Regions from separate parts of the Homo sapiens genome. Here region 1 is linked to region 2. Evidence: fine-mapped expression QTL. A gene starts in region 2. The other region holds a variant in brackets. All regions are shown on one strand. Distances are between the middles of the regions.

What was found. PIP is the estimated chance that this variant, and not a neighbour inherited with it, causes the effect.
Region 1: its variant is fine-mapped to the expression of SMIM10L1 in subcutaneous fat (TwinsUK, PIP 0.93).

The regions. Positions count from the first base shown.
Region 1 is chr12:10,964,719-10,967,640 of GRCh38, reverse strand. The region is part of intron 4 of PRH1-TAS2R14 (PRH1-TAS2R14 readthrough); the gene reads left to right. The region is part of intron 4 of PRH1-PRR4 (PRH1-PRR4 readthrough); the gene reads left to right. It also overlaps a transcript of PRH1 not described here and the pseudogene TAS2R15P. Among named protein-coding and RNA genes, the nearest start is that of TAS2R50, 21 kb to the left of the region's middle. The variant A/G (reference allele first, on the strand shown) is at 1,121.
Region 2 is chr12:11,169,660-11,172,581 of GRCh38, reverse strand. It overlaps SMIM10L1 (small integral membrane protein 10 like 1), which reads right to left and starts at 1,388. Exons shown (of 1, transcript NM_001271592.2): 1 at 1-1,388. The coding sequence starts at 1,225. The coding sequence ends at 1,019. It overlaps PRH1-TAS2R14 (PRH1-TAS2R14 readthrough), which reads left to right and starts at 971. Exons shown (of 5, transcript NM_001316893.2): 1 at 971-1,160. It overlaps PRH1-PRR4 (PRH1-PRR4 readthrough), which reads left to right and starts at 957. Exons shown (of 10, transcript NR_037918.2): 1 at 957-1,160. It also overlaps a transcript of PRH1 not described here.

The DNA.
Region 1 (2,922 bases), 200 kb after region 2:
ACAAAACAAAACAAAAAGCTAATCACATGAAATCAATTTCCTGTTTCTTCCAACTTGCAGGATAAGGCCTAGACGAAGCTTTTATTGTATTGTGTGACCCAAGTGTTGGGAAAAGTAGAAAATTGTTACCAGATGTGAAGAAACATTTAGGGGCTTGAAAAGCAGCATGGAGGTGGACCTAGGCTCTTTGCAATGTTCCACGTCTTGCCTTATTTGATGGTTACATGAGTGTTTATAATACATTGCTGTGTTTACCATTTTTATTTTGACTCATTTCTAAGTGTGCATTATAATTTTATTTGAAAATTATTTATTAGGAGAAGTGCACCATAAAAATTATTGATTACTCTGCTCATTATATACCTAGGAAAAAATTCACCATTTATATATCTTTACATACAACTCTAAGAGAGTTGAAGTGGGAACTTTATTTTAGTTACAACATGTAGAAATAAGAGAAGACGCTACCTGAAGTACCCAGATCTTTCCAAAGGTTTTTTTCTACTTTTTTTTTTTTTTTTTTTTTGAGACGGAGTCTTGCTCTGTCGCCCAGGCTGGAGTGCGGTGGCGCCATCTCCGCTCACTGCAAGCTCCGCCTCCGGGGTTCACACCATTCTCCTGCCTCAGCCTCCCAAGTAGCTGGGACTACAGGTGCCCGCCACCAGGCCTGGCTAATTTTTTGTATTTTTTGTAGAGACGGGGTTTCACCGTGTTAGCCAGGATGGTCTCGATCCCCTGATCTCTTGATCTGCCCACCTCAGCCTCCCAAAGTGCTGGGATTACAGGCGTGAGCCACCGCGCCCAGCCTCTACCTTTAATTATCTACCTTGCATGACAAAACTTTGCCATTCCTTATCTATTTTTCTTTTGGCTCCTCTATTCCTGACACAACAAGGGTGGACATATTTCCCACACGCTTGGTTTTGCAGAGTACCTATATCAGTTAGGTTTTTCTGCCAGAGAAACCTCTCCAACACTACATTACATATTGATATCTCACATGTCTTTGGATTCAGTTTTTCTAAGCTGGGTTTGCTGGATGGCTCTGGTGATATGAGATGGGCCAAGTTCTGCATCTTGGAATTAGTTAGAGTTTGGACAAAGTAGGCTGGATCAGGCA[A/G]GGACAAACTGACTCCATTATTTTCTCATTCTCCTTCTGGGAACAGAGTAGTAGCCAGGCAATGTTCTCATAATAAACAGAAAAGGAAAAGAAACTCCAATGTGGAAACCATCTCAAACCTCTGTGTGAAGTCTACCAATTTTCTGTTAATCAAAGCAAGCTATGTGAGTGTACTCAGAGTCCAGGGGCAAGGTAGTCACCCTGTGTGTGGTGGGAAAATACTGCAAGATTATATGTCAAATAATGGGATACTCAGGAATATTTACAAAAATGTTGAATATTTTAATGAAATAACAAATATTTAGACATTCAATAGACTTGAGAGTAACTTTACCAAGGGTCTAAGTATGAGAGATATGTTTAATATATTTTTATGGGCTGAAAACCCTGAGTGGGAAAATAGGACTAATTTCACCAGGATGACCTCCTGGAAATGCATTTTCCATTTTGGAAATTATTTTAAAAGTTCATTTTTTCTGGATGGGTATGTGTATGTGTGTGTGTCTGTCTATGTGTGTATGTTTTATGAGCTTGTTAACACTAATGTCATACAAAAGTACTGGTTAGCAGGAATAAGATTTTAAGGTGTATTGGCATTCCCATGGTTCCCAAGAAAATTTTCGATGACTTTGATTAAAAAGTTTGGATTTTGTCTATTTAAATCTAGCATAAAAATTGGTCATGGTGATGATCCTAGTTATAACTAATCTCCCTTTAAGATTTAGGCATTTACTGTGTGAAATATGTGGCACATTTTCCATAACAAACAGCTAAAGTTACTGAACACAAATTATGGAAAGGTGAAATGAGGAAAACATTGCAAAACACTGAAAGAGAATATGTCTTTATTTGCATGCTGGCAAATGAAAATTCCGGTTTCACTTCTACTTCAGTATCTAACAAGTCTCTAACAAGAACAGACATTGAATGAATGAATTAAGTTGAGCTGTTTGAAAATTAGAATGTTTTCCATAAATACATTATTGAACTATCAATTAGCATAAACTGCTACTTTCTTGTTTGACACTGGTCACAGTATTTGAAAGTAAAAAGAATGTTACTGCACATTCAGAAATCAGGTCCACATAAAATTTAAGGTCAGGATATTAAAGGATCACAGCCAGTGCTGTTAGGCCTTCATTTATTCTATCTTTTTGTCTGTTCAGACATGATAACTTTTCTACCCATCATTTTTTCCATTCTAGTAGTGGTTACATTTGTTCTTGGGAATTTTGCTAATGGCTTCATAGTGTTGGTAAATTCCATTGAGTGGGTCAAGAGACAAAAGATCTCCTTTGCTGACCAAATTCTCACTGCTCTGGCAGTCTCCAGAGTTGGTTTGCTCTGGGTAATATTATTACATTGGTATGCAACTGTTTTGAATCCAGGTTCATATAGTTTAGGAGTAAGAATTACTACTATTAATGCCTGGGCTGTAACCAACCATTTCAGCATCTGGGTTGCTACTAGCCTCAGCATATTTTATTTCCTCAAGATTGCCAATTTCTCCAACTTTATTTTTCTTCACTTAAAAAGGAGAATTAAGAGTGTCATTCCAGTGATACTATTGGGGTCTTTGTTATTTTTGGTTTGTCATCTTGTTGTGGTAAACATGGATGAGAGTATGTGGACAAAAGAATATGAAGGAAACGTGAGTTGGGAGATCAAATTGAGTGATCCGACGCACCTTTCAGATATGACTGTAACCACGCTTGCAAACTTAATACCCTTTACTCTGTCCCTGTTATCTTTTCTGCTCTTAATCTGTTCTTTGTGTAAACATCTCAAGAAGATGCAGTTCC
Region 2 (2,922 bases):
CATTTCCTGTTGACTTCATACTGTTCTCCCCTACCACTCTCCCTCTTTAATATATTACCGTTTTAGAAACTTTATGGCTACCCTGTAAGTAATAAAAATGTCTTTCCCCACTCAACAACAGACAGTACCTTTCAAGTTTCCACTTTATAAGGACATAACCCCCATTCCATTTACTTCCCCCGCCCTCCTTCAACATTCCCACTTGTATTTTCCGGCTGTATTTTTAAAACATGGTAAATAACATTTGCACTCCACTTTGTAACCATAATTAAGTATGCCCTTAAACAATAAAAACCATAAACAACATTTGTATTTTACGATTATTTAAATGTTATTCACTGAACAGCCAAGCTTTGTGCTACTATGGGATTTCGTTTTCTGCGGTTCCAAGTCTTGATCCACGTCCTGCCACAGGATCACTGAAGTAGAGCCCATTTTCTTACACTCTCGCCATTAGTTCAAAAGCTTGCAGCATTTTATGTCTGGTACTTGGAGGATGATTTTCCTGTACAGTTTTGCGTTTTTTTCACCGAAAATTTCTGATTATTATTGTTTTCTCTTGTGGGATGAAATATGTACCTTCTATATCACAGCCTTAATACCTTCAGCTTCTTATTCATTGAAATCTTGCTTACAATCCAGTCCGAGGATTCCCGGTTTACTGATTTTCTTTTTCCTGCAAATTTTAGCCTTCTGTTTTGTTTTGAAATAATGCATCCTCTGCGCTTTGTCACATTCTGAAATTCGTCAGGTGTTTTAGGATGCACACTTTCTTAGATGTTTTCGAGGGTCTTAACTGCAGTTCTGTTTCCGGAACAGCGTATTCTCTTTCTAGGGATTGTAGGCTCCCGGCCGCCCCCTGAGGAGCTCCGCTAGCAGCTAAGAGGGCAGCCACGAAGAGCGCCTGAGCACTCTCGCGAGACTGTGGGGCTCGCCATTGGCTGCTCCGCCGCGCCGCAACGGACCCTGGGAGTCGGCCATCATGCTGGCCCCGGAGGCCGTTAGCTTAGTCATGGCTCTAAATATGTACCTGCAATCGGATGTTGAGGATCACCGAGCCCGCGACGTAGAAGTACGGGAAGTTCATGCGCAGCTGCCAGGCCAGCTCGAAGAAGGCGAGCAGGGTGCGGGAGAGCCCCTTGCAGAAGACGCCGTACGAGGTGGGTGTCGCGGCGGGGCTTGAGGCCCTGACGGCCAAGGAGGACGGAGCCGCCGCGGGGGCCATGAGCCAGGTGTCGCCGCCCGCCCAGCGTCTGTAGCGAGGGTTGCCGCAGGGCCCGCGGACCTCCTAGCGACGGCTGGGACCGGCAGGACGGTAAGCAAAGCGGCTCCCGGGCTCACACCCAAGCTTGCCGCTGCCGCCGCTCGGTGCAGTGCGGCGCGTAGCCCCGGGCGCCGCTGGCGCTCCGCCCCTTCCTGTCTGCTTCTCACTGTGGCATTTACCATTTAGAGCTCAACTGATGGTAGGTGGCTCTGGAATAGGATGTGTTATATAGCATGTACGAACATCCATGCAGATAGTTCCACTTTAAAATGAAAAAATCTAAGCGAGATGTAACTTGCCGTAGGGCACAAAATTTGTAAGGGCCAAAGCTAGATTAAAACTTTAGTTTGTCTGCTGTGTTATGTGGGATGTTAGGAATCTTACCCTTTTGATTTCATAATATTAATATTAGGGCAAGATGATTCCTACGCCAATAAAAGCACAAGGTCTCTGTATTCATAATATACCATAGACATAAAAAGGATCACAATCTTAGTCTTTGGATTTTTCTATTTATTAGGAATATTTAAATTGCAAGTGACAGGAATGATAAACATTCAAGCAAAAAACTAGTGGACACACACGCGTATATACATAAGGACATACATACAAAATTATATTCCCAGCCATGTAAACCCTTAAAAAGTTCAGATTAGCTGTGGAAGCTTCAGCCATTTCTGCATGGAGATGCATCTGTGAAACCTGTGGCTAGGCTCCAAGAGCTGGAATACTACTCTGTACTTCCAAACTCTTTTTTTGTTGTTGTTTTTGAGACGGGAGTCTCGCTCTGTCGCCCAGGCTGGAGTGCAGTGGCGCGATCTCGGCTCACTGCAAGCTCCGCCTCCCGGGTTCACGCCATTCTCCTGCCTCAGCCTCCTGAGTAGCTGGGACTACAGGCGCCCGCCACCATGCCCGGCTAATTTTTTGTATTTTTTGGTAGAGATGGGGTTTCACCGTGTTAGCCAGGATGGTCTCGATCTCCTGACCTCGTGATCTGCCCGCCTCAGCCTCCCAAAGTGCTGGGATTACAGGCGTGAGCCACAGCGCCCGGCCTGTACTTCCAAACTCTTAATACCATTAGAGTAACAGCACAGTGAATCTCTAATAGCCACAATACTTTTGTTATTTAAATGGTGCACATTTCATTACCTTCACTTATCTCCCATTTTAACTAGAAAGCACTGTATTTTTTAATCGCACACACCGTCTTCATTCATGGATTATTCAAATGTGTGATTTCTGATCATGACCTTAAGGTTACAGTCTTGTTCTGAAAAGCATTGTTGAGATACCACACATCGCACCGTGCACTGCATGTCTAGCAGCTATTCAGAGCACAAGTACGGTACCCTAGAGTACCTCTGTTTCTATATAGTCTACTGATTATATGACTGGTAGAAATAACGTGCCACTGATAAATTTGTAAAAATTAATTTTGTGTTCCCAGCTAGTATTCTTTTGCTACTTTGCTGCTCCAGTACCACTCCAGCGAGGTAGCACTTAGAGGAATTACTTATGACAACTTCTAAAATACTGGTATAGAGACTGAAGAGCGATGTAAAATAAATGATCAATTCTGAGAACTGGGAGAAGATATATAGTTTCAGTTCACACATATAATTTACTCCCTTTGAAAACTGAAAGACTAATACACAGAG